Linked DNA regions of Homo sapiens: regions 2, 3 and 4 are each reported to be linked to region 1. Evidence: microRNA targets listed by miRTarBase, many of them from high-throughput screens and not tested one by one. Region 1 holds a microRNA gene; each other region holds the end of a gene's coding sequence. Distances are between the middles of the regions.

Region 1 (7,122 bases):
TGGTATTCAGTTTTGTATTCCTGAGTTACTTCACTTAGAATAATGGCCTACAGCTCCACCCAAATTGCTGCAAAAATGTTATTTCATTCTTCTTTATGGCTGAGTGGTATTACATGGTGTACATATACCTGTATAGAATAGAAATGCTTAAAACAATCCTCTAATAGCTTTTACAGATGAGCAAGTAGGGTCAGAATCATCAAATTCACCATCTCAGTGACACCAGAAGTTTCTAGAAGTCTCTAGTCATACTGATTTTCCACTTAAATTGCTGGACCCAATTCAGTTCTAAACATTAGTTTAGGGAGAAGTCAGAAGAATGCAGAGAAGTCTAATAATCCTGACAAAGATGCCAAATTAAGCCTACAAACATTAAATTGGTAAGGAAAAGTTCAATTTGTGAGTAAAATATTACAAGAATTAAACACAACATATTAAATTATTGGACTACAGTCAATTTACATCCTAAGTATGAGTGTCTAGAATACCAAGTTTGGCACATATAGGAGATCATTTTTATCACCTAGTCACAAAACTACAATTTTTGGGAATAAAACTGTGTAAACTGCCGTGGCAATGTAAGTCCAAAAGCATTGTTTTCTAATTATATAAGTAAGAAAAAATTTCTAATCCCGTTTTTCAAGATCCAATAAAACTTAATTAGTCCTGTGAAAGAGAACACAAAATGCTCCCCAAATGAAGGTGAGAGATAGAAAAGACAGACAAAAAGAGAAACAGAGAGAGAGACAGACTTCTGAAAACCCAAAGATATGGTACAAACATGGAAAAGCTAAATGTACAAAGATATTACAGCAATACGTACAATAAACTATCAGTCTGACCAACCTAACAGTACCTCACTCAATGAGAAAACATTGTTAGAAATGGGAAACATTTACACTGTTAACTGAAATAAGGCACAAATTTGAAAAGAAATTATTATTATAACTTTGTAAAAAAAATTGTGTATGAAAAAGGACTAAAAGGCACATATACCAACATGGTAACCACAGTTATGTTAAGATCATGGGACTGCATGTAATTCTTTTACATTCAATAATAATAATAAATAAAAGTTATAAATAAGTTGTCTAAATTATCTATAATGTGATCTTTTCAATGTAAAGTTTTCTAAAGAAAATAAAATTATATCTTACATTTAATTTACAACAATGTCTTTTTCTACTTCAATTTCTACTAAGATATTTGAGCACTAAATTCATTATATGAACTAAGTTTTTTACCATATCACAAAAAAAATAAGAATAAACATTACCTTATTCTGTGCTCATAAAAATAATTAGTGGGCAATCTACTAATTAAGAAATTCAATGTAAATGAGTCATCAAATTAATTGGTTCCATAAATCCAAAGTATCAGCATAGGGCTTTAATAACCATCCTCAGCATCATCAGTATACTTATCAGAAGTGCAATTAGTAAAGCCTGACATGACCCTACACCCAAAAAGGCTATAAAAATAAAGTTGTTTTTTTTTTTACAGTATAAGAATATAAAAATAAACCTTTGGCCATCAACATAGAAAACAAAGGCTGCTGTTGCCCTCAATCTATACTTGAAAACAGAATAGTAAATAGCCTGAGTCTATGCTATCACTTAGATGATTGTCCCTCCTGTTGAAATTTGATCTCAATGTTGGGGGTGGGGCCTAATGGGAGATGTTGTTGGGCATGGTGGGGAGGGGTCAGAACCCTCAAGAATAAATTAATGCTCTTCCTCAGGCATGCTTGAGGTCTCACTCTATTTGTTCCCCCAAGAGCTGGTTGTTAAAAAGAGCCAGGGCCCCTCCTCCCACCCTTTTCTCCTCTCTCATTTTGTGCACAAGCTGGCACCTCTTTGCCTTCTGCTATCAGTGGAAGTAGCCTAAGGCCCTCACTACAAGCCGATCCTGGTGCCATACTTCTTGTACAGCCTGCAGAACTGTGCGGTAAATCAAACTCTTTATAAATTACCTAGCCTCAGGTATTCCTACATAGCAACACAAAACAAGACAAGGCAGTCAATTCATCAATAATAAGAATCAGTCCTATGATCAACTTCCCTCTGGAGAAGTTTTTTAATCTTTCTTGCAAATTAGAATATATTATCCCCAAAATGTGCAGACCTGATGTCAGAAAGAGATAAAATTCTTAATGAACAATACTGCCAAATGAGATAAAGGATACTGTAATAAGTCTTTTGACTAGTTACAAAAGCATCAAAAATGGTCAAAAAATAACCTTAAGTACAGTTGTAAAGAGCTTGTAATTCATCACTCCCAACCTCACGACAAGAAAAAAAGCTGGGGGTAAAAAAAAAAAAACTGATAATCCAACTCTTCTTAGAGCCATCAGAGAATTGAGGTCAGAGGGCAAACTGCTGCTCTAAAACCTGGAGAGACAAGACAGGCAGATAGAGAATCACAGTGTGCAGGAAGCAGAAGTCCAGGAATACAAGCTCTCAACTGAAGCCAGCATCAGTAGGAACACTTGAAACAGTAATTGTGGACTAGCTTGAGAGTTAAAAACTGTAAGGGGACCAGTCTTACAGGGGTCCCCATACTTTCCTGAGTTTTACCTCCAGGAGCCCTACCAGGTTCTCATGGTAAAGATCTGAAAAAAAACCCCTCCTGCTTGCAGCAGGGGAAGAAGAAAAACCATTTTGAAATACGCCAGGAACTTTATTTCTCTTAAAAGGTATTCCAGAAAAGGAAACTATTTTACCAGAACCTAACCAACTGGCTTTTAGATTGCCTAACCTACTACGGTTTTACAGTGCCTAACCAACCGGAGGGAAGGGAAATACCCAACTCCAGCCCCATCTATCCTTTGACCGAGAAAAAGAGACAGTTACTCAACTCAGGCTCACAGTTGGTAGAGGGCAGAGGGATGAGGGGGAAAGTTCTATAGTCCTGAGATCTAATTACAGGACTATAGAACTTTCCCCCTCATCCCTCTACCCTTACCACCACATCAGTACAGCTCTTGTACAACACAGGATTACAACTTAAAAACCTGCAAGCCTCAGACCCCATTTAAGGATTCTTTACAAAAACCCAAAGACAACAGGGCAGATAAAAGCAAGGACAGTAGAAGAAATTTTAGCCTCTAATAGTGATGGCGGTGGCTTTCTGGTACATGGACGGCACAGGGAGAGGCGGACAGACCCCCTCCCTCAACAGCCCGCCGCCCTCTGTGCAGCACAGTCAAGCAGAGAGCAGACCGATGCAGAGCTGAGGCTGAGCTTCAGGGGCCTGAGGCAGGAAGTGGGAGCGGTGCCCACTTCAGGGACCAGCCAGTGACACAGCCACTGCGCCCACCCCACTGAGGGTGCCAGGTTCCTGGGCCTCAGGAGGAGGCTCTGTGCAGGGCTGCCCGGGGCTACATCCCCAGGGTCCACCCCACATCAGGCGACTGCTGAGCCTGCCACTCCCAACAGCCAGGCCGGACAGTTATCTGCTCTGCCTGGGCCACTGAAGCGCCAGGGCAACTGGGGTAGCTCCCGGCGATGTCACCCCTGCCCCGGATCCCAGCCCAGGTCCAGCAAGGATCTGGAGCCCCTGTCTCAGGCTGAAAGGGGGCGGAGCCAGGGCTGCATGCTCCACAGTGCCAGTGGGAGCCAGGAGCAGGCAGCAGCCCAAGCCACCCAAGCCTGGGTGGTAGACCCAGGCCTCCATGTGCTCTTGGGGACTGGAAACAGGCAGGAGCCCTGTCCCCCAACCCCATACAGCTGCAGCTACCCAAGTCAGGGTTGTGGACCCAGGCCTCCGTGTGCTCTTGGGGGCTCAGGAAGGCCCCCCTTGCCTTTGCAGGCTCGGAAATGCCTGTTCCCGCTGCCACTTCCCGCACCGGCTCCAATGTGGCAGGTTCTCAGAGTGGGGTTGGAGCCAAGCCTGGATATCATCACAGCCCAACAGGATATGCGCATGCTCAGGCCCTGCCGCCTAGGCCCCCTCTGAGGAAGCTGAGGTGGAGAGCTGCTCCATGCTGGCAGGCAGGTGCCCCTTGGCACAAGCAGCCTGGGAGCCATGGAAAGTGGCAGGAAGCAGACAGGCTCCTGGGTGGAAGGGGGCACGTCCCCAGATAGACCCCACCTTCAGGCCAGGGAGGGCCTGAACGTTGGGGACCGGGCTGCCAGTCCCGCAGACTGCAGTGGGGGCTTGTGGTGCCTTTTCCAGCCCACCCATGGCCACCGATGTACCAATTGACACACTTCCTCCCCACTGAGGTCCATAAAAGCCCCGAGATCAGCCAGAGCAGGGCAGAGGCCAGAGAGACAGCCAGATGACTAGCTGCAGAGAGGAGCTATCGTCTCTGCTGAGAGCTGGGAAGTCAATGGGGACCTGCCTGCAGAGAGGAGCCACTCACTCCAGGGCCTCCTCTCTGCTGAGAGCTGAACACTGGATGAGACAACCTGCCTATAGAGAGGGGCTGCCCTCTGCAGCTCTCCTCTGAGCTGTTCTAACACTCAGTAAAGCTTCTCTTTGTCTTGCTCACCCTCCACTTGTCTGCATACATAATTCTTCCTGGACACAGGACAAGAACTCGGGCAAAGGCGCCACTGGCCACAGAGGTTTCTAGACAGAAAAGCAACACCTTAAAGATCCCGTAACATTTGCCTCCGATACCACAGCCAGAACAAACACTAAACACAGCCTGACTTCTAAACAGATAAACATAAAACCTCACACTAAAGGCCTATTTACCTCAGTTCCTTTTACCTGATACATTCTGTCTGGCTATGAAAAAAAATTATGAGGCACTATAAAGGCAAAAAATACAATCTGAAGAAACAAAGCAAGCCTCGGAAACAGACTCGGATGTGGCAGAAATTTTTACCAGGAATTATCAAATTATCACCAGGAATTTTTTTTTATATATATGTTTTGAGACAGGGTCTCACTGTTACCCAGTCTGGAGTACAGTGGTGATTCACAGCGCACTGTAGCCTTGAACTCCTAGGCACAAACAATCTTCCTGCCACAGCTTCCCAAGCAGGTAGGACTACAGGTGCATGCCACCACCATGCCCAGCTAAGTCCTTTTTTCTAAGACCGGCCTGGGCAACATTGGAGACCCTGTTTCTACGATTTTTTTTTTAATCGCCAGGCATGGTGGCACACACCTGTAGTCCTGGCTACTTGAGAAGCTGAGGAGGGAGAATCACTTGAGCCTAGGAGTTCAAGACTGCAGCGAGTTATGATCACGCCACTACTGCACTCCAGCCAGGGTGACAGAGTGAGATCCTGTGGAAAGAAAGGAAGAGTAAAGAGAAGGAAAAAACAGTGAAGAGGGGAGGCGAGGAAGGGGAGTGTACAAATCAATAACACTGTAACAGGAAAGAATGTCTTTAGTAAGAAACACCAAACCTGGAAGTTCAGAGAACACCAAGCAAGATAAATACCAAAATATTTACATAGGCAAATGATAGTGAAGCTGCAGAAAATAAGACAAAGAGAAAACTAAATCAAAAGCAAAACTTTAGTTTTTTCCTTATTAACTTTAAGACCAATAAGATATCTCGAAAGAAGCAAGAGGTAAAGAAAAAAATCAACACACACAGAAAACATCTTATCCACAGAGAAATAAAGAATTAGATCAAACTTTCTCTTCAGAAACCATGCAAGCAAAAAGAGTGAAGTGAAATATTTAGTGTTAAAAAAAAAAAAAAAAAAATCCAACCTTTCGGCCGGAACCACCATCTTCCAGTAATTCGCCAAAAGGACGAACACAAAGGGAAAGAAGAGAGGCACCCGATATATGTTCTCTAGGCCTTTTAGTAAACATGGAGTTGTTCCTTTGGCCACATGTATGCGAATCTATAAGAAAGGTGATATTGTAGACATCAAGGGAATGGGTACTATTCAAAAAGGAATGCTCCGCGAGTGTTATCATGGCAAAACTGGAAGAGTCTGCAGTGTTACCCAACATGCTGTTGGCACTGTAAGCAAGTTGTAAACAAACACGTTACTCAGCATGCTGTTGGTATTGTAAACAACTTGTCAACAAACAAGTTAAGGGCAAGATTCTTGCCAAGAGAATTAATGTGCGTATTGAGCACATTCAGCACTCTAAGAGCCAAAATAGCTTCCTGAAACACGTAAAGGAAAATGATCGGAAAAAGAAAGAAGCCAAAGAGAAAGGTACCCGGGTTCTACTGAAGCACCAGCCTGCTCCATCCAGAGAAGCACACTTTGTGAGAACCAGTGGGAAGGAGCCTGAGCTGCTGGAACCTATTCCCTGTGAATTCATAGCATAACAGGTGTTAAAAAAAATAAAAGACCTCTAGACTGGCTGGGCACGGTGGCTCACACCTGTAATCCCAGCACTTTGGGAGGCTGAGGCGGGCAGACCATGAGGTCAGGAGTTCGAGACCAGCCTGGCCAACATAGTGAAACCCTCTCTACTAAAAATACAAAAAATTAGCTGGGCGTGGTGATGGGCGCCTCTAATTCCAGCTACTCAGGAGGCTGAGGCAGGAGGATCGCTTGAACCCAGGAGGTGGAGGTTGCAGTGAGCCAAGATCACACCACTGCACTCCAGCCCGGGCGACAGTGTGAGACTCTGTCTCAAAAATAAAAAAGAAAAGAAATACAAAAAATTAGCCAGGTGTGGTGGTGCGCACCTGTAGTCCCAGCTACTTAGGAGGCTGAGGCAGGAGAATCGCTTGAACCCGGGAGGCAGTGGTTGCAGTGAGCCAAGATCGTGCCACTGCACTCCAGCCTGAGTAACAGAATGAGACTCCATCTCAAAAAAATAAAATAAAATAAGACCTCTGGGCTGTTAAAAAAAATAAAATAAAATACCAAACTAGAATGCCTATAGAATCCCAGCAAAAGTATCCTCCAAAAGTGAAGAAATAAAGACTTTCTGAAATAAAAACTGGGAGAAATGAAACCCAATAAACATGACTTGCAAGAAATGTTAACAGAAGTTATTCAGAAAGAAGGAAAATTATATAGATCAGAAATATGGATTACAAAAAGAAAGGAAGAGTGTAGAGGAAAAAAATAAAGGTAAAACTAAATCTTTTGTTTTTCTGATCCTTAATTCATCTAACAGATAACAACTTGTTCAAAATAATAATAGCAACAATATATTTAGTGACTGTAAATTATGGAAAAG
Region 2 (7,122 bases), 3.7 Mb from region 1:
GGGACAAGTCTCAAGGGCTATTGCAGTTCCAGAGCTCCCCATGTGGCTGCTAAAGGCTTTGTTGGGACTGCTCCTCAGCTGTTTCTCCCTCTGCCTACTTCTGTTCTTTCTCTTCCACATGTGTTGAAAAGCACTCCCCAATAAATCACCTGAAATCTCCATCTCAGAGTCTACTTCCCAGAGAACACAAATTGCAAAGACACTTTGGCATCATTATAGTCTCTTTACTTTTGTACATGTTCAAGTTTCCATAATTATAATTTAAGAAAAGCAAAGGACTGTGTCAGACTATATATGGTAGATAAGGGAGTAGTGACAAGTGACCTCTAGGGTTCTGGTTTCAGACTGAATGGTGCCATTCCTTGAGCAGGAGATGCAAGAGGAGAAGCCATTTGGAAGACAAATAAGGAGTTAATTTTTGACATGCCAAATTTGGGGCGCCTGCGGGGAGCACCCTGGGCTGGAGACGGTGATTATCAAGCTGGAGACAGTCCATGAAAAGGAAAGGTAACGGTGGCTTGGAACATCTCAAAGGGCCAATAAAAACTCTATTTAGATTTCAACTGTGTTTGCACAAGTACAGTTGAATTTGTGAATACCTCACAGAATGGGAATTAACTGCACCCTTGATAGCAGGCACCATATTCTAGAATATTTATATCACCTAGAGGTCTTAGAATAATATCTTGTACTCACTCAACACTACTCATTGATTGAATGGATCTCCCTGGAAGAGCTAGAAAATGGTTCTGTTCCCCACTTTGTTCCTCTGATCATAATTCTTCTCTAGTCTCTGACACACCTGAAATCCTCTCCACCTTGGATCATGTGTGAGTTGTTTTTGCGCATGCAGAGTGGAAGGCTTTAGGACGGATCAAAGATGAGTCAGATGGGAACCATGCTCTGAAGAAACTAAGAGTTTAGTACGAGGGATAAGACATGCAAAAATTATAAGGTTAAAAAAAGAGAAGTGAGAAAGCTAAAGAGGAAGTGATAAGGAAATTCACAGGAATGATAAATATTTGCAGTTGGGAAAACTCTAAGTAAGAGGCAAAGGCTGATGCAAAGTACCTCCCAGGCTGTATTGGCTCCTTTCTAATTTTCCGTATTTGTAGCTCACTTTCTTTAGGTTTTTGCTTTAATATTCTACCAGCAGATTAGGGAGTCAGGCAACAGTTTATGACTTCTGTCCAGCTTGTTTCTGTACGCCTATGAAAGATTTTGTCATAGCAGTTGTATGTAGAACCGTTTTTAAAAATCCATTTCAGAGGAAATAATATTATCCAGTCATATTTGGAAAGGATCTCTACATAAAACAGGGTTTTTAATGTTAATATTTCAAAGATCTTTAAAATTAGATTTTACTTCACAGAATCCTAATCTACTTGTCTGACTTTACACAGTGTTTCTCTACTTTGTAAAAAGCATGACCCTTTGTGATAAATATTACAGCCCCACCAGCCTGCTCTCTTCTATGGAAAATTGTCCATCTATAATGATTATGCATCCGTAGGACCAAAAGAATTATGGCACTCTCATTAAAGGGCACCTCCCTGATTAGACACGAACACACACACATATGATAAGTGAGGCTACAGATCAGTTTTTATTAGTAAAAAAGTATCTAAAACACCTCAACTACTTTTGAAAAGTGTACCTTTGCTTTCTATAAAATGCTATTTGAGGAAACCACAAACAATGAATTTTCCTGAAGGAAACAAATGAAAATAAAATGTAAAATGTAGTGAGCTGTGGATATGCAGAGGCGAAGTTATTTATTCTAAATACCTGGCTTTGTACTTTATAATACATTGTGCAATCTGAACATACCAATTATTACAGAGATTAAGGCTCCAAGCTTTTTCCGTACTCTATACACTCATCTCCCTTCTGTCCAACAAGATTATCTTCTCCCAAAGGATTCTCAATAGCTGGCATACAATAAAATCAAAACAGTAAAAAGCCCAAAAAACCACCCCCCACAAAACCACCAAAATAAAAACGGCACCAAGTGGGATAAAGTTTCGAGATCCTTAACTAGGCATATCTCAACGTGCTTTATTTAAAATAAACGAACTCTTTGAGTGCCTTAAGAGGAATATATTTAAATAAACATAGAACTCCTCTATTTTTGATTAGATGTCTAATTTTTTTTAAAAAAGTATTATATAACTAACCACTATCCAATCTGTTAGAACTCAACTTTTTCTATTCTACAAAGAAAAAGCTTCATACCCCAAAGCATTTGCTTGGGAATTTCGGGAGGCAGCTCTTCCGCAATACATCAAGTCCCATTCGCCCACGCCCCCCCCATCTAAAAAACAAAGTTTGGGGAAGCACTAGGCTTCCGACTTTGACAAGTCCCAGAAGACAAAGCCCAGGGCTGACCCCCCACGCCTGGCGCCGCCCGTTCGCAGGCCAGGAGCGGCCAGGGCCTCCCGCATGCGCTCCCACACGTACGCGCAGCGGGCAGCAGCCACCCCACAGCGTACACGAAAGTCGCCTTGCGCGGCTGGAGCCCTGGAGCCCACGGCCGGGGCCGCGGGCGGGGCCCGGGACTGCGGTGCTGCGCCCGAGCACGTACTGAGGCGTGGCCTGCCGCGCGCCGGGCGGGGCTCGGGAAGTTTCTCGGGTTGGCTTGGGTTTCGCATCCTCATCATGTAGCGCCAGCCACACCAGGAACAGAAGGGTGCCGGGTACCTTCCGCATGCTTGGTATTCTCCCCGCGGGGCTCTGACCGCTGCCGCTCTCAGGCACCTGTCTTTCCTCTCCGTCCCAGAATGGAGCCAAGACAAGGGAATAAACGAAATTCAATAGTACACGGAGATCGGGTGTCTGGGCAGCGTCTTGGAAAAACTATCCACTACAGGTAAGAATAAAAATTATGTCCAAACCTCTGAAAGGTGTGAACACATCAAAGCTCCAGAAGGCGTTCATAGGAAGGTTTATGGTAAAGTATAACTTTTATCCTACAGGGAGACTATTTTTGTATCGAATTCCACTAATTTCACTATTTCTCTGTAAAATAATCTGGGACGACAGGTTCATCTCTATTTAAAGGAACGAAATGTGAGCAAAGTGGTTAGTGGAAAACTTAAAAAAAAAAAAGTAAAAGTTTTTTTCTTTACATTTTTGTTGGTTCCAGCTGGCAACACGTTTGCAAAGGTTTTATTTAACCAAATCTTAATGTTGAAAAAAAGAAAAAAAGAGGATTCTTTACTCTGCAACTTGTTTTAGGTATTGCTACTTAAACATTTTGAACTTTTAGATTAAGTTTCTACAAAGCGAGTAATTTTAAGTTCATCTTTTCTGTACAGAGGCTTCTAGGAGGAAAATAAGATTTGGAATGATAATCGTGAGGTTATAAAAACTTAAACATATCTATTATGCCATTAAGTCAAAACAGCTCTGGGAAAAAATACCATACATTGATACAGTCTTTTATAGTTTGTGCTTTCCCATTCACTACCTTGTTAATTTGAGTTAATGTCTCCATAACTGGATATCTCAATCTCTAGTTCAAATTCAGAACCCACTAAATGGCACTTGAAAACACTTTTATTCATTTCTATTTATGCCCTGCCACTCCTCTTAGGACATTCCCTCAATGTTATGTGATCTCATTACTTTCAAGTGACATCGGATCCTCAGTTTTCCACACCTCCATTGCCGCCTTCTGTTTGCTATTTAAACAAACAGTTAACAATGGAGAAAAGGGTATGTTCAACTGGATTGGCTAGCACTGCAGGGTGGTTAGCTCCATGGACTTTGGAGTCACTCATGGCCACCTCAAAAGCTCCGAGCCTTAGATCACTTCTTCAAGACTATATACTGTATAGATATACTCCTCCCTTATCTGGTACTGCTATGAATGAACTATATATAGCATTTAGATCTCAAATGAAGATTTACCCAAGCTCTAAAAGTAATAGATGGCAGACCAGAAATGTAAGCTTAAGTCTCCTGACTCTAAAGTCAAACTTAGAACAAACTTGGTTTGTTTTTTAATGATACTGCATTAAAAAAATTAAAATAGCTTTATTCTTTTTCTCCTGTATTTTTATGGAATAGCTACATTTCTTTTATACTCAGAACATACATTCTCATTTTTCTGGGTTATGAGTATAAAAGAAATACAGCTGTTTCATAAAGTAAGGATTATAGTTGCCAGGGTTGGGTTATAAGCCTTGGACAAAACCATTATGAAGAAATTTGTGACGGTGCATAAAATTGGGAAGGGCCAGTTCTGCTATTCCGTAGCTTAAAGCACTCCAAGGAGCTTGTTGTCTTAGTGACTGAGCAGTGGGTAAGTACTTGCTTCCTTCCAGCTGTACTGTCCTTTAACGTGGCTTTCCCTTCTCAATGCTTTCAGAAGTCATTTTCCTGAACTCCTGGTCATTACATAATCTGCTTTTACAAATAGTTTTCAACTGAAGCTAATTTGCTATACAAGAATAATTTTTTGTTTTGTGACCTGTGAATACTAAGCAACCACTTTATTCTAAAATACCACTTCTAGTATACTACTATCTGTAACTAAATGTTGAAGCACTTTGGGTCACAGTGTTTGTGCTTAAGTATACCTGTGCCCCCCCCCCCCCCAAATTTTGCACTGAATCTTAGTATTAACTTTTGTTCCAAAATTTTCATATAATTGTAATCACTGTCCTCCATTGTAAGATAAAAAGAGCTACCTAAGAGATCTGTGGCTCAGTTCCTTTTGTTCAGTATATATACCTCAGGGTAAAGGACCTAAGGCTCTGGCACTTCCTACATAATTTGTTCATAAAAATAATTTTCTGTACCTGTAGGTGCAGGGATTCATAGTGATTTTTCTGTTTTAAAAAATATCTTTCTACACTGTCTGATTTTTAAAAATGAGATTATCAGTATAAAAGAAATACAGCTATTTTGTAAAAGAAAAATACAGGAGAAAAAGGATAAAGCTACTTTGTTTTAAAACGCAGTATCATTAAAACAAAAACAAACCAAATTTGTTCTAAGTTTGACTTTAGAGTCAGGAAACTTAAGCTTACATTTTTGGTCTGCCATCTATTACTTTTAAAGCTTGGGCAAATTATTCATTTGAAGTCTAAATTTATTAATCTGTTAATGGGAACAGATTAGAAATCTTCAGAGAAGCTCTAGCCTTTGTAACATTGTGACTATAATGCTGAGAACTGCTTCACTCATCCCATTCATATTTTAAAAATACTAATATTTTGTGTTTGAGCATTTTAATAGGCTCAGAAACTTAAAAATGATGTTTCTTTTCTAACAACATACTCTTTTCAATGGGATATTATGGTTGTTATTATTTAACATGACATTTAGGGACTCAACATACATTAAGGTGATGGCACTAAGATAAATGTAGAAATAACCAGTACCATGTAATTTTCATAAGTGCTTAAATTGTTGGTAAACAATTTTATGAGTTGGAGGTGTTGAAGCAAATATTATTAATATTTGAACATAAAAGCTGATCAAAGGGGCCTGGTCCACAGAAGATGTTTATTTGATGTAACAAAACAATACAGTTAGTGTTAGATCCAACCACAAAGAGCAAAAGGAATGAAAAATTTGTACAATGTACATAGAAAAAACAAGATATTTACTGTGACAACTATATATTCCTAAAATAATGCTTCTAAAATTACTCAATTATTGAAATCTACATGAAAAAAAGGATGTTAATAGCGACAAAGTGCATAAAATCAAACATTGTATTTTGAGCAAATTAACATACTAGGCAATTTTGCTAAGAATGCATGATTTTTTTTTTCTTGTTTACAGTCTGCTCAAAATATCTTTATACCAACAGGGTAGGCAGAACATTTAGGTTTAATATCAGTTACACAATATTAGCATAAACTTCCACAACTACATAGGGTATTGTTTTCTTTTGAGCTGGCAAAGTGACTATAGAAACATCAGATGATTTCTCTGAATTGAGAATTTTATCCAAATAAATGCCACATACCTTCTAGATATATGCATATCTTTCTATATTATGTAAATGGCTTTACCCATTTAAATAATAAACCATACAGCATTTAAGAATCATTATTATATGATTAACAATGTCATGTTCCAGGTTTAACAATTTCATAGGCCAAAAAAAATTTCTTCTTAAAAACTAGTTTTATAAACGCAGAATATATTCCATGAGTAACTGCTGGTATTTTTTAAGAAAATATATTGTGCAATTGTGGCTACCACGTACTGCTGGCAAAGCATTATTATTTATGTAAAATGTGAAAAAAAAGGTGTAAAAATTTTTCAACTGCCTATGATCATGATGAAAGGTTACTGCCTTCTTACAAAAATTATATTGGCATCTTCTTAAAAATAATTCGAAAAAGGGATAAACTCCCTAGCCAAAAATAAATAAATAAAAAGGTGCATTTTTTAAAATGATGCTACTGCAATGCAATGGTTTAAATACCAAAAAACTGAGAAAATGAGCTGTCTGTGATCCAGCATTAAAGAACATACTAAAAAAGAGCATTAATGTAAATTAAGTAGAAAGGGGATCAAAATTGAACTAACCAAGTTTGTGCAGTATTGTAGCCAGGCTTCTAAAATTAGATGTAGAAAATATAAATAGACTGCTTTAGGTAATGAGCCACCAGTGTCCAAAAAAAGGAATGAAATTAAGAAAAAGCTCAGTTAACTTGATCCAAAGCTCTGAGTAATTCTTCACCCTGCAGTAGGTTTCTGCTGCCTTGTATAGGAGCATTAACTTCACAATCATAACTGGTCAGCTGTGGTAATCCACTTTCATCCATTGATTGCCCCAGCAGTCTACATGCTAAATCTGAAAAACAAAAGAGATACCTAAGTATACATTCATCTAGTCAATGAATATTTATTAAACACCCACAATGTGTTAGGTATCATAGAAAATAAAGCAAAATTCTGGAAGGGTTTTTAGTTTACCTGGCAAAACCACAACTATGTTAAAAAGTAAGTATAATCCAGTGATACTGTTGCTGTGTCAGAAATGTTTACAGGATACAATAAAGGCACAAAGAAATAACAATTTGGAAAAAGGCATAAATATGGTGGGCATCAAAGCTGATGCCTGTAATCCTAGCACAGGCTGAGGCAGGAGGATCA
Region 3 (7,122 bases), not on the chromosome of region 1:
CTGAGACAGGCACATTCGTCCTCCGTGACCTTCCCCTTCAGCATTCACCTGAGGCTGCATGCCCTCCAACTGCTGGGACTCTGTTCCTGCCACATTGAGGAAGGGGGCTGGGCACGACATGGCATCATACTCAGGAGCCTTCTTCACCAGCTCCTTGGGACAATGGAATATCCCAGGGTGGTGACAGCAGATGGAGCTACTTGGGGGAGAGCTCAAGTTGGTCAGGCAACAGCTGGGGTGATGGCCTGTGAGCCACAGGCCACATCAGGAACTTTCCCCACTGCCTCCATGCAAGGCTGCAGAGCTATGGTCCCTTTCTCCACTGCACTGGAGCTTTGAAGACCTAAGAGGCTAGTGGTTCCTGGAGCTAGTGGTTACCTGAACAGGTATGGCGATGAGCTACAACATCACCTGAGTCACCAGAGTTGGGTTGGCAGAGGGGTGAAGGGTTCACCCCATTCCCTGACCCATCCATGCTCTTCCTGGCCTTTTAGCCCTGGGTTCCTCATGCCTTCCAGCTCTGCTCCTGGTCTACTCCTTAGCCCACACCCTGTGGGTCAGCAGCTGGCTTCCTTCTAACGTCTCATTCTTTGTTTCTCCCTTTCTTTTGCTGAACTCCCTGTCCCCCCAACCCCAGAAGGCAATGTTGAGCCGAAAGCGTGCGTCCCAGTGTCTCACACCTGTGCTCTTTAAACACAGAGACCTGCCAAGACGCCCTCTCGTCCAACTATGCCCAGGCTGAAGTCCTCACCCTCTCTTAAAGCGGCACCAACGTGAGAGAGACAGGCAGACAGACAGAAAGCCAGAGGCTTAGGGAAACTCTGGAACCCAGACAAGAATCTTTTCGCTGGGAAAGACTCAGATATCCTTGTTTGCACAGGACTGGTGGAAAATCTCCCATGCGACCCTCGGGGCCCAGAGCCATCTGGGTCTGATGTTCTGTTCCATTGTACATCGAAGAGATATATATGCACATATAGTATCTATATTCATACATATTATACTCTTGTGTGTAGTGCACGTGCTATTGGTGGTTTGTCTTCTTTGTTAGGCTGTGTCTCCCTAAGCCCTTGCCCCACCCAGAGTTTCCCGTCCCCTTCACTGATTTCTGTTGTTTCTGCTGACTGTGTGGGTGGAATGTCCCAAGAAAAGTGCATCTGGGAATTGCCAGTCCAGCTGGGTAGTCCCAGGCTCCTGTCTTGGGGATGTTTCCCCTGTCAGCAAGTAACCTGGTGAAGTCTATTGAAGGCCAGACTGCCCCCTAGGGTCACTGCTTCACTAGCCGCACCCCACCCCAGATTGGGGTTCTACCTCCCACCCCACATCCTCGTTGTGGGGGGACTTCCAGGGGCTCCTCTGCAGCCTCCTCCACTACTTCCTCCACCCCATCTATGTCCTTGACTTAGGGGGGCATTTTGTCTTTTTTAGATTTGATTTTGTTCTCTCTCCTTTGTCTGTTTGTTGTCAAAGATGCTGCTGGGCAGACAGGCAGGGAAAGGATCTGTCTGCCCATCTGGCCCAGGGGGTCCGAGAAGGGAAGCCTTGGGCAAGAGGAGACCAGTTGCAATACTGTACTTCCTGGTCAGTGGCCAGAGGATGCGTGCAATAGCAGAGGCCAGGTGACCCCTTCAGCCTTGGCCTCTGCCCCTCCCTTGGCCCTCCCTCCCTGCTCCTCCCTGGTGTTGGTCAGTCCTTTTCTAAAGCTGTCCCCTCGTGTGTGTCTGGGGCATGCCCAGGCTGGGCCCTGTGCCCTGTCTGCATGCCTCCAACTGTCATGCTGTGCTCGAGCCCCAATAAAGACATCTGGAGCATCCTGCTGCTCCTGCTGTGTGAGCACCTGCCTCTGCCTCTCCTTTCTGGCTCTGTGTCTATTGGGACCTCCTGGGGCTCTCACCCCTGACACCTGAGGAGTGCACACACTCAGCATAACCCCACTCCAGCAGGAATCATCAGTGTGGCCTGACCCCTGCATTTTACAGGGAGAGACTAGTGCTCAGAGAGGGCAAGTCATCTGCCCAAAGCCACACAAAGAGGACTAACCCAGGACCCCGAGACCCAAACAGTGTTCTAATATCCACTGCTGTCCCCAAGCCCCTGCCATAACATGGAAGAAAAGACTGTTCTTTGTTTAAGGAATTCCACTGCATTCCGTTTGTGCAGGGGGCCTCCCCTCCTCCCTGCAATTGTACCAGTTCTAAATGGGCCAAGACCCTGGGGACGCCAAAGTTATTGGCTGGATGGCTGATGAACTGAGGCCAACTAGAGACTGGTGGCACAACTGGGGACCACTTAGGGATGGAGAGTGAACACATCCTGGGCCTGGATAGGACGGGGAGATGGTGAGTGATGGTCAGACGTGGCCCTTGGCTCTCACTGTTGTTATCCCTCTCACGTTCACATAGGGGCACACGCAGGGCCAGCTTCATGGGTGTGCAACCTGTGCAGCCACTCAGAAGGGCCCCATGCTGGGTTTAATGCTTGGCTGTCACCATCATGAAATTAATAATGGTTGAACAGGGGCCCTGCGTTTCCATCTTGCACCAGGCTCTGGCGGGTCTGGTTGCCTGCTTGCCTCTCCTTATTCTTGTCTTACTCCTCACTCTTACTCTGGGCATCTGTGTAGGACCATAGGGGCCTCAATTCAAAGTCTTGCTTTGCTGCTTGCTAGCTGGGTGACTTGGGGGTGACTCACCGAAATGGTTTCCCTGTTTGTTAGGGAATAATGATGGCCCCTGTTTCAGAGACAGAGTGAAGAGCCTGGCCTGGTGTCATGTGTCTACCTGTGATATGACATATAGTAGCGGCACAGTGTCAGCTCCCTCCCTGCCCTGTTCCTGTCACTCTCAGACTTTTCTCCACAGACTTCTGAGATCTCCGTGTCCAGCTGCACCAAGAAAGGACAAGAACACACCCGGGAGCTGTCTTGGGCAGTGTAGAACAGCAGGGTGAGGACGGAATGGCCGAGGAGAGGGAAGAAGCCAGGGGAAGCCTGTTCCTGAAGTGTAAGGAAAGATCGGGCTTGGAGCCTGGGCCAGCCGAGGCAAGGGGGTGGCAGGCAGCCAGTGTCAATTAAAGATAAAATTTCTCCTCCGGTAGTGGAGGGCAAACAGTGGCTGTGGCCCCCCTAGACAGGAGAAAGCCATTTGCAGCCAGGCTGGCCTTGGAAAAGCTTGGCCAGGCGATAATGGGACGGGATGCGCTGCTGACTCCATAATGATATTACGCATCAGGGCCCACGGCCAAAGTGGCTGTTTTTTCTGTAGATCGATGTGGAACCATTTCATGGTCAGGGGCTGAGAACCCAGCCAGCAGCAGGGGTACTAGATGCCAGAGTGGTCCTGAGGGGACTGAAGGGGTGGCAACTGGGGTCCCCAGTGACCGTTTCAGGCTGCTGGAAGAGGAGGGGGCAGTGTGCAGGAGGGTGGAGGGGTGGACGAGAGAAGCAGCAGACTGCCCCTCCTCCCCACCTCACAGAAACAGCAGGCCGTGCTGTCAAGGAAGAAAGGGCTCTGGCTTCCTCCTGTTCCCCAAAGCTGGAGTCGAGCCCAAGGTAGGGAGCTGGTTAAAAGAACAGGACATTGTTTAAAAGAATAAGACAGACTTTTGAAGTCAGGCAGACTTGGGTTTGAGTCCTGACTCCATCACTTCCTTGTTGTGTGACCCTGGGCAAGTTACTCAGCCTCTGTGAACGTCTATTTCCTCATCTTTTAAATGTAGTATCTGCCTGAGGCCGTGTCTCTCTCATTGAGCCATGAGGAGAAATGAGTCGGCGCCTGTAAAGCCTCGCGCACAGTGCCTAGCACATAACCATTGCTAGAGGGAGAGGGGAGTATTTTGGGGCAACTCACTCCAGTAACAGATGACCAGTTTGGTTTGATGACCTCACTTTTCAGTGAATCAGCCTCATTTCACTGAAGTCCTTAGTCCTTATCTCCTTGTGAAGGAATAAGAGGGGATGATTATACCTAACAGCGAACATTTATTGAGTGCTGGGCAGTACATTTCATGCTTATAAAGATGCATTCCAAGATTGATGTTATCCTTACCTTTGTTTTACGAGGAGAAAACCAACACAACAATGTCAGGTCATTTCTCCAAAGTCACACAGCCATTAAGTAGCAAAGCTGGGATTCAAACTCAGTCTGGCTCTGTGGGTCCAATGCTTAGCCACTCTCTGAACTGAGTGGGGCTTGTGAGTCATAACCTCCAGTGTAGGAGTTTGTGCTTTTAGTGTTATTTCCTTAACTGCAATTGATTCTCATAGCAAAGGTATTGTTTTCCCCTTTTACAGATAAGAAACCAAGGCTTGGAGAAGTGAATCATTAAACTCACTCTCCCTTTTACGTGTATGTACCCCACCCCACACACACATAAAGCGAGGAGGAATGTCCTCTTGGGATTCATTCATTAATTAGCAGCAGGCAACACCCAGCTCAGTGACTGCTTGGTTCCTTCCCTCTGCGACCCCACTGGAGTTTTATTCTCTGACGCACAGAAGTGGGTAAGTGGGGGTAGGACTGCTCTGGAACCCAAGTTACATGAGGAGTGGCTCAAGCTGGAGAAGTCTTGGAAACCTGATCCCAACTACCAGGTGTTTAAAGGGTACCTGTGGGGAAGTGGGTTTAGATTCTTCTCTGATTGCAGAGAGCAGATCCGGAAATAATAGGTGGAAATGTTAGGAGGGCAGATTGGGTTTAAATTTTAAAAAATCTTTTTTTAATGAAATTTTTGATTTGTAATTTTTGTGGGTACATAGTAGGTATATATAAGAACCTTATTTTCTGTTGTTTCCCTTGCTATTATAAATTTATTACTGCCAGTCATGGTGGCTCATGCCTGTAATCCTAACACTTTGGGAAGCTGAGGAGAGTGGATTGCTTGAGGCCAGAAGTTTGAGACCAGCCTGGATAACATAGTGAGACCCCATCTCTACACAAAAAAAAAGAAAAAGAAAAATTAGCCAGGTGTGATGGCATGTGCCTGTAGCCCCAGCTTCTCGGGAGGATTTCTTGAGCCCAGGAGGTTGAGGCTGCAGTGAGCTATGATCATACCACTGCACTCCAGCCTGGGCGACAGAACGAGACCCTGTCTCAAACAAACATTTATTTAATACAAGGTATTGGAAACCATCCCCATACCAAATCAACAGGGAATCCCCTGTCACCCTTCCTCAGTCCCACTTTCCTCCCCAGAGGTGACATGGTTAACATCTGGTGTGGGTCCTCCCAGGCTTTTTGGAAAAAAAAAAAACTTTCTAACAAAATTACCAAATCAAAATGGGTTTCCCTGCGGGGTAGTGAAGTTCCCTTCCCTGAAAATGTTTGGAGACACAGTGGATGATCATGTGCTGCACCAGGGTTCGTGGGAAGTATTTCTGCTCGGCGTGGGAGGTGGAATTAGAAGACTGTTTCCAATCCTAAGACTTTCTGACTCACGTGGCACACACAGCTAGTTAGTGGTGGAGGCAGGTCCAGAACACAGGTATTCAGATGGGGTTCAGATGAACTCCTTTCCTAGCAAGATTTTCCTTAAATTCTTCTCTGCCTCTTCCCAGCCCATCAGGGATATAGGGCAGGGCAGAGAGACATCTGTGTCTCCTCTAGTCTGGAGCGAGGGGAGTGTCCTGGGCCTGGGTTGTGATGCCATCCAGTGCCCACCCTCGTGGGGCTCCTGTGGCATTATTGCAGTGAGCACTTTCTTTCCGTTCCTGGCTCCAAGCCCTGTGTGTGCATACACTGGTACCCACACAAGAGGTAGCACGTGAGCTGGCTCAGTCACTTGGGGCTGTGGTAACCGCATTCAAAATGCAGCATCATGCTAAAGAGCCGCTGGGGACTCTGGGGACAAGGCTGTCTCCGACCCAGCTTTAGGGGGTGAGGAGAGGGAGCCAAACGGCTACAGCTGCAAGTCAAAGAGGTCAGAGGCCTTCTGATGTTGGCACTGGAAGCCTCTCCTTTCTTTCCCCACAGGTTATGGGGGCTTCTCCACTCCCCGCTCTTACTTGCCTGCTTCTCCAGGGATCCCTAGAAGAGCAGTGGTTAGCAAGCATATGCTATAGCCATCAAATACGAGTCTACAGAAATGTAGGCTTCCCCTTGGGGCTGAGTTAGGGCCTCTGCTTCTGAAATGAGCAACCTCTGGTTGCTGGTGGGGGCTAGGGCTTGCTCCCTTTCTCTCCTCACATACTCTTTCCTGGGTGACCTCATCCCCTCCCATTGCCTTAAACATCTTCCAGGTACTGGTGTCATCCACTTGTGTAGTTCCAGTTCAGAAATCCCGTCAGCTCCATTCATTCATTTGTTCATTCATTCAGCAAACATATGTGGCATCTCTGTCCCAGGTACTGCTCTACAACCTGGGTGTACAATAGGGACCCAAACAGACACTCCCTTCCCCATGCACTCCCTGCTCACAGACACACCTGCGTGGCAGTGCCTGGGTGTCTTCACAGCTCCCTGATGCCGAGCTGTGATCCCACCCTTCTGCCTCCCTGGTCCCCCTCAGCGTGCTGCCACCATTCACCTTGAGGCTGAGATAGATGTTGTCAAAACCACCCTCTCATTCCTTAATTCACTCACTCATTTTTCGTGCATTAAATCTTTATTAAACACCTGTGAACTCTGTCCTCAGGGAAACAATGGTGAACAAGACCAACAGGATCCCTGCCCTCATGGGACTTACATTCTAATCAGGGAGAGAGGCCAGAAGACCAATAGATAAAAAATATCTCCCACCCGTATTCCAACCTATTACCAAGTTCTACATTTCTAGCTCTGCAGGAGCCTCCTCCCAGGTCTCCCTGGGTCCCATCTGCCCTTCTGCCACCAGTCTCCACCCAGTCACCAGAGAGAGAGCTTCTTAAAATGGAAACTGGATCAGATCATGTCACCCCTGCTTAGAACCCTGTCAATGGCTGGGTTCCCACTTCGTGTACAATCCAGACTCCTTAGGAGGGCCTGTGATGCCCTGCTGCTCCTCATGGCCTTCCTGCCTCCGCAGACCTATTCATGCCCCTGCTCTCAGCCCCTGAGACCAGCAGCTCACTTTCCTGTCAGTTTCCCACACATCCCCAGCTCTCTCACCTTCAGTGTTTTTCCACTTGCTTTTCCCTCACGGGGACCA
Region 4 (7,122 bases), not on the chromosome of region 1:
TGGGGTTTCACCATGTTAGCCAGGATGGTCTCGATCTCCTGACCTTGTGATCCTCCCGCCTCGGCCTCCCAAAGTGCTGGGATTACAGGCGTGAGCCATCACGCCCAGCCAATTTTTTTTTTTTTTTTTAATGATAGAAGAGGCTGGGCATGGTGGCTTATGCCTATAATCCCAGTACTTTGGGAGGTGGAGGTGGGTGGATCACTTGAGGTCAGGAGTTCAAGATCAGCCTAGCAAACAGGGTGAAACCACATCTCTACTAAAAATACAAAAAATTAGCCAGCGTAGTGGTGGGTCCCCATAGTCCCAGCTACTCGGGAGTCCAAGGCAGGAGAATTGCTTGAACCTGGGAGTTGGAGGTTGCAGTGAGCTGAGATCACACCACTGCACTCCAGCCTGGGTGACCGAGTGACAGTCTTTCTAAAAAAAAAACCAAAAAAAAAGATGGAAGAAATGTAAGACACAATGTTTTAGAAGTCAGAAGAAAAAGTTCGCCAGGCATGGTAGCTCATGCCTGTAATCTTAGCACTTTGGGAAGGCAAAGTGGGTGTATCGCTTGAGCTCAGGATTTCAAAACCAGCCTGGGCAACTTAGCAAAACCCTGTCTCTACAAAAAAATACAAAAAAAATTAGCCAGTTGTGACGGTGTGCACCTGTAACCCAGCTACTCAGGAGGCTGAGGCAGGATGATCAACTGAACCAGGAAGGCAGAGGTTGCAGTGAGCAGAGATTGTGCCCCTGAACTCCAGCCTGGATGACAGAATGAGACCCTGTCACACAGAAAATAAAAATAAAAAGTGATAAAGTTGTATAAATCTCCTACAAAGTACCACAAAAAGGCAAAACATTAAAAAAAAAACAAACAAACAGAAAACATAAGAAAATTAAAGAACCAGTCTATGAGGCCTACAGTCAAAACAGTAGTAATTCTAGAAAGTATTAACAGAGAAGACTGGGATGGAGGAAAGAGGGAAATTAACAAACAAACAAAAAATCAAAAAATTTCACAGGACTTAATGGTATGAGTTGCCAGAATGAAATGGCCCCAGCAAAACGGATAAAAATGGACCTAAACCAAAGCTATTCTTAGGAAATTTCAGAACAAATGGGGCCCCCCCAAAAATTCTATAAGCTTCTAGAGAAAAATATCAGGTTTTATACAAAGGATCTTGAATCAGAATGGCATATGCTTCTCAACAGCAATTCTGGAATCTACAAGACAATATAACAATGCCTTCAAAATCCTTAAGATAATCATTTCCTAGAATTCTATACCCAGCCAAACTATCAATCCATTGGCTAGGTGGAACAGACATTTTCAAATATGCAAGATCAAAATAAATTATTTCCCATGCACCCTTTTCCAGGAAGCACCTGGAGAATATGCTCCACCAAATGACGGAATAAACAAAAAGAGAAAGACATAGGATACAAAAAACAGAAAACCAAAAGAAGAGACAAAAAGAATCCACAGCATGACCCTATGTACTATGCCAGGAACATACTAGTTTTCCAGTCAGAAGGGTTCAGGATAGACTCTTCAGAAGTTTGAAATTGATAAAATATTTATATATATATATTATATATATTTATATTATATATATTTTAAATATATATTATATATTAAATATATATTACATATTTAATGTATATTTAATATTTTAAATATATATTTCTAATATATATTTATATGTTTTATATATATATATTTATTTATTTTTTTTTTTTTGAGACGGAATCTCACTGTTGCCCAGGCTGGAGTGCAGTGGCACGATCTCAGCTCACTGCAACCTCCACCTCCTGAGTTCAAGTGATTCTCCTGCCTCAGTCTCCCAAGTGGCTGGAATTACAGGCATGCGCCACCACACCCAGCTAATTTTTGTATTTTTAGTAGAGATGGGGTTTTGCCATATTGGCCAGGAGGATCTCCTGACCTCAAGTTGTCTACCCACCTCAGCCTCTCAAAGCAGTAGGATGACAGGTGTGAGCCACCGCGCCCAGCCAATATTAATAATTTTTAATCATTTTGTATTTATCTTAATTTTTTAATTTTTTTTTTAAATAGAGACGAGGTCTCACTATGTTGCCCAGGCTGGTCTTGAACTCCTGGGCTCAAGCAATCCTCCCGCCTTGGCCTTCCAAAGTGCTGGGCATACAGGCATTAGCCACCATGCCGGGCCTTGTCTGAGCATCTTGAGAGACTTAGACGACTGAGAGAAGGTCAAATCAGTCTTAGGTAGATAAGCAAACAAAACAAATATGACAGATGATTAATTCCAGGGAAAACAAGTTGTTAGGAAAGGAAAAGTAATCAGGTTACTATATAGCTAAACTCTCCTTAGCATTTACATAGTCAGGATAACGTACAATGAAACTACCAAATAAGTATATTGAGGACAGGTGTGGTAGCTCACATCTGTAATCCCAGCACTTGGGAAGCCAAGGAGGGAGGATCACTTGAGCCCAGCCAGGCATTTGAGACTAGCTTGGGTAACATGGCAAGACTCCATCTCTACAAAAAATTACAAAATTAGCCAGGTGCCATAATGCATGCCTCCCAGCTACTGGGGAGGCTGAGGCGGGAGGATCCCTTGGGCCCAGGAATTTCAGGCAGTAGTGAGCCGAGATCATGCCACTGCACTCCATCCTGGGTGACAGAGCAAGACTCTGTCTCAAAAAAAAAAAAAGTAAAGAAAACATATATATATATATATAGAGAGAGAGAGAGAGAGAGAGAGAGAGAGAGAGAGAGAAAGAGAGAGAGAGAGAAACCTGGAAACCTGGCCAGGCACAGTGGCTCACACCTGTAATTCCAGCACTTTGGGAGGCCAAGGTGGGCAGATCACCTGAGGTCAGGAGTTCGAGACCAGCCTGGCCAACATGGTGAAACCCCGCCTCTACTAAAAATACAAAAATTAGCTGGACGTGGTGGTACATGTCTGCAATCCCAGCTACTCAGGAGGCTGAGGCAGGAGAATGGCTTGAACCTGGGAAGTGGAGGTTGCAGTGAGCCGAGATCGCGCCATTGCACTCCCACCTGGGCGACAGAGCAAGACTCCGTCTCAAAAAAAACATAAAAACTCAGTTGAAGCTGGTTGAGGTGGTCCATGCCTGTAGTCGCAGCTACCCAGGAGGCTGAGGCAGAAGGATCACTTGAGCCCAGGAATTTAAGACCAGCATAGCAAGACTCTTGTCTCTAAAAACAAAATTTTTTGATTAACAAAAGAAAAACTCAGTTGAAAGTGGTTGCCTTTAGAGAAGGAGAAATGGGGGTGGGATCAGGAGAATGCTGCCTTTCATAGAACTGACTTTTTAAACTCGTAACTTCTACGAATTGAGGTAAACTCCTTACTTTTTTAAAAAAATAAGTAAAAAAAAGTAAAGTTGTAAAAGAAAAGCTCCATCAACTATCCATCCCCCAAAAACTTTTTTATGCCTATTTAATCTACATTCTTCAAAATTTTTTTAACCTGCCTAGCTTTAATGGTATTATTTACATTAACCAACTGAAAAACTGTTTTCAGAACCCCATTTTTAAAAGCATTTAAAAGAATTCTGCACCAACATGTGGAGACACATATAATCCAACCCCTGTATACTTCATTAGGGCTTATTTGTTTAAACAGTTTCATTGGCATTCATACTTGGAACAACAGAGGGTTATTATAAAAAAAAAAAAACATAGTTGTGTTTATCATGCCAGGACTGGGTAACTTTATTCAAGACTTTGACAAAATGATCCCCAAAGTAATATAAATGTAGACACTTTAAAAAGTCCAGATGTGAAATTTCAAGAAAACTTTGAATTCAGTCCAAAGTCAGTATTAAGTCAAAAGTTGAACCAATTCTACAAATCATAAATACTATTTTCCTTCTTAAGTTCATATATTTTCTGAGATAGATTACCAACTTAGTTTTCTTTGATATTGGTATTTGGAATAATTTTAACATGATTTAACATCTTTAAGTTCTAAATCTATACTTATCCTGAATATCTTATTATAGTTAAAAATATAAATCCAGAACTGACAACTCTTCCTTACAGAAGAATTCCAATAATAAATGTAGAAGGATTGAGAGAAATAGAAAATCACCATTAGAACACCACAGTAGTAACTGCCACAAGCAAGATCTGCCAATGGATAGTAAAATGAGCAAAAGTTTAAGCAGAAACGGGACATTTGCATAGTCTCCGGGTATCTCCAGCAAATATTCAATAATTACAAGGAAAACACAGTAAGTTTACAGTAGCGAATCCTAGCAGACACCACCTTAGCATAGTGATCAAGGTTAACAACACCAGAAATACATTACAACATCAGGTATCCCCTGTTATGATACACTGTCACAGACTGGAAGACAGGACGTAGGCATGATAGCTAAATGCAAGGCTGGGTCTTGGAACAGTAAAAGGACATTAGTGAAAAGACTAAAATCTCTACTTTTTAAACTTTCTACTTTAGTTAGTATTATATCAAGGTTAATTTCTTAATTTTGACAAATGTTCTATTGTTACGTAAGATGTTAACATAAGGGCAAGGTGGGTGCAGAGTATACAAGAACTCTACTACTTTTACAACTCTTCTGTAAGTCTAAAATTATCTCAAAAGCTTAAAAAATAACTGTTAGAAAACAAACATGTATGTGCATAACATGTGTACATATATATAAATCAAGACTTCATGGAAATTGGCATCTTGGGCACTCAGTCAGTAAAAGAATAGTGTTCTCTTCTGAATTATTCATTGTCTTACTGGTAGCTTAGCTTTAAGGTCCTCCCCCTTCTAGACTTTTAATTTCAAGTATAAATTTCTAATTTTCATAGAAAAGCCTTTTTTAAACATTCCTATATTAGGCCAAAAATAAAATCCTAGAATAAAATTATCACCATATTATCTTATAAAATCACTCATCCCAATCATAAGACCCAGCCAGTATTTTTACTACATTTCCTCTCCTCATCTGTTTGTATTGGTTTGGTTTGGTTTATGAGTGGGGACAGCTAATAGATTTAGTATTTACTCATAGGCCTGACAGTCTAGGGGAAAAAAAATTATCACTTGGGTATCTTATGAAGAAACAGCTATTTTTCCAAGAACCAATATTGTGTACTCACCTCAGACATAAAAAGTTATTTACCTAAGTCTCTTCTATCTAACAGCATAGAGTTACCCAAACAAGGCCAATAAAGACCCTTTCAATATCCTTTTCTTAAATTTGGCTCTAAAATGACTGTTAATAATGGTAATAAATGTCTTTTTATTAAACAGACAATTTTATCTTATGCAATTTAGGGAAATAAACATAAAATCTACCTTTAAATGAAGAAAATAATAATTTCCCACTCTAACTATGGCTGATTCATTCCCTGAGCATGAATCCCATTTTACCCTCATTGTTTTTAACTATAAACTGAGCTGAAATCTGCTCACAGGTGAAACTAGTATTTTAGATGGAGAATGATATTACCAAGTAATCATATTTATTACTTTTTGTAGTAATTATTTCTACTCACTGTGGCATTTAATGTTTCATCTGTAACTCTCTATCACAATGCCCTCTATAGAAGCAGCAATAGTGAAAACATAACTACACTTTGGGGAAAAAAAAAAAAAACAGGAAAAAACAGATAACTTTTAAGTGGATCTTTATCCAAATACAATAAAAAAGCAAAAAAGAAAAGTGTCCGTAAACATTTTCATTTTATGTCAATGCCATTTCCAAATTTACCTTCCACTACTACCATGAACAGCAGAAGTGGTAAAAAAAAAAAAAAAAAAAAAAGAAGAAAAAAACTCTAACCTAATGATCTATAGAAAAAGGGAGACAATTTACTCACTACACATTGCAGTATATTCAAGTGGTGAAAAGATATAAATTTTTTCAGAACTGCCATACTATCTGGCTGTCAATATAGTCTCTTGAATAATTATATTAAACATATTACTACAAAATGTACCAAGAAGTAGAGAATAATACTATATTTGTAAACTGCAAATAACAAAACAAAACAGAAGTCCAAGAAGGCTAAAGTCTAAGCTATAATTACACATGAAGTATATGTTGAAAGCAGTCACAATGTACAAAAATGTGACAAGATATCCAGATGTTTAAAAAAACACATCCTGTTTGTCTCAGATTATATCCAGTTTCATCTGGTAGGTTTCTGATAAGCCTGTTGTGTGAAGTGTGTTTCCCTCCTGCTGGTAAGAAGCAGCTTGTAGATATCCATAAATTTTTTAAGGAGTGAGTCTACTTGGCAATATTGGTAACTCCATAGTTTCCTATTACATTCATTCGTCTGAAAACTGAAAACAACTCATGACTAAAATATTCTTCCATTCCTTTGCCAGTTTTTCAAGTATAAAATCAAAGGAAAGCTGGAATGTATTGCTTCTTGTCATCAACAGGCATTTCAAAAAGAGGGTAATTAACCAAATCAAGTGTTCTTTGGTCAAGTTAGTAACAGGCTTCCACTTTGTTCTAAATCCTTTCATAATCCTTTTTTTTCTAATTTTTCCAGTATGGCCTGAATCTTACAAACAGCCTCTTTTCTGGCCTGCCGTACAGAGTCCTGGCCCCCAGTTTCAACTGAATCCAGTTCCAAAAGTTCCTTGGTTAGCATTTCTTCCAGAAGCCAGTATGCTTTGTCTGTCTTTTTTCCTACAAATTCTTCTACTTCTTGTTCAAGATACTGGACCTTCTCCAGCACATGTATGATTTTTTTAATACTCGGAGGAGTACTTTCATCTGAAGGTACACATTCTTCAGGAAGACTGCTACTTTGATCTTGATTGTTGGGATGGTCACTGGTGGCATTACCATACAGCTGAGGCTCAGCACTATACTGGACTTGGGAATCCAAAAGATCTGAATCATCATTGTTCACTGTCCCCGAGGATTCGTACTGATGGACACTGCAAGGAAAGTTGTGCCGGTTCATGCTTTGATCTGATTGGCTATAGGGGTATGAAGAATCCTTGGAGTGGGAGAGCAAAAAGAGGAAAAGAGCTGTTTTAATGGGAATGCATCAACATCAAATTTGTTAGCCCACATCTTTCACTTGACCAGAAAGGTACATGAAAAGATTCCCTAACAATAAAATTGGACCCCTCTCCTTAA

What was found. The annotated mature microRNA hsa-miR-625-3p reads GACUAUAGAACUUUCCCCCUCA and lies in region 1 at 2,889-2,910, opposite strand. An mRNA with a match to its seed (bases 2 to 7 or 8) in the 3' UTR can be bound and repressed. Matches are read on the target gene's strand: a 7mer-m8 pairs with bases 2 to 8, a 7mer-A1 pairs with bases 2 to 7 and ends in A, and an 8mer does both.
Region 2: miRTarBase lists HIF1A as a target of hsa-miR-625-3p. Seed matches in the 3' UTR shown: 7mer-m8 at 5,922-5,928.
Region 3: miRTarBase lists KCNC4 as a target of hsa-miR-625-3p. Seed matches in the 3' UTR shown: 7mer-A1 at 976-982.
Region 4: the mRNA of BAG4 is a reported target of hsa-miR-625-3p. Seed matches in the 3' UTR shown: 7mer-A1 at 5,977-5,983.

Annotation. Positions count from the first base shown.
Region 1 is chr14:65,466,941-65,474,062 of GRCh38, reverse strand. MIR625 (microRNA 625) reads right to left here and starts at 2,961; the gene lies at 2,877-2,961. The region is part of intron 2 of FUT8 (fucosyltransferase 8); the gene reads right to left. It also overlaps the pseudogene RPL21P8.
Region 2 is chr14:61,746,632-61,753,753 of GRCh38, reverse strand. HIF1A (hypoxia inducible factor 1 subunit alpha) reads right to left here. Exons shown (of 15, transcript NM_001530.4): 15 at 5,496-6,820. The coding sequence ends at 6,669. HIF1A-AS3 (HIF1A antisense RNA 3) reads left to right here and starts at 2,657. Exons shown (of 3, transcript NR_144368.1): 1 at 2,657-2,869. HIF1A-AS2 (HIF1A antisense RNA 2) reads left to right here and starts at 4,665. Exons shown (of 1, transcript NR_045406.1): 1 at 4,665-6,715. RefSeq lists a silencer at 2,326-2,635.
Region 3 is chr1:110,232,212-110,239,333 of GRCh38, forward strand. KCNC4 (potassium voltage-gated channel subfamily C member 4) reads left to right here. Exons shown (of 4, transcript NM_001039574.3): 4 at 700-1,833. The coding sequence ends at 761. Among named protein-coding and RNA genes, the nearest start is that of KCNC4, 25 kb to the left of the region's middle. RefSeq lists enhancers at 2,711-3,211, 3,212-3,712 and a silencer at 4,224-4,333.
Region 4 is chr8:38,209,865-38,216,986 of GRCh38, reverse strand. BAG4 (BAG cochaperone 4) reads right to left here. Exons shown (of 5, transcript NM_004874.4): 5 at 3,686-6,979. The coding sequence ends at 6,494. Among named protein-coding and RNA genes, the nearest start is that of DDHD2, 18 kb to the left of the region's middle. RefSeq lists a silencer at 5,982-6,276.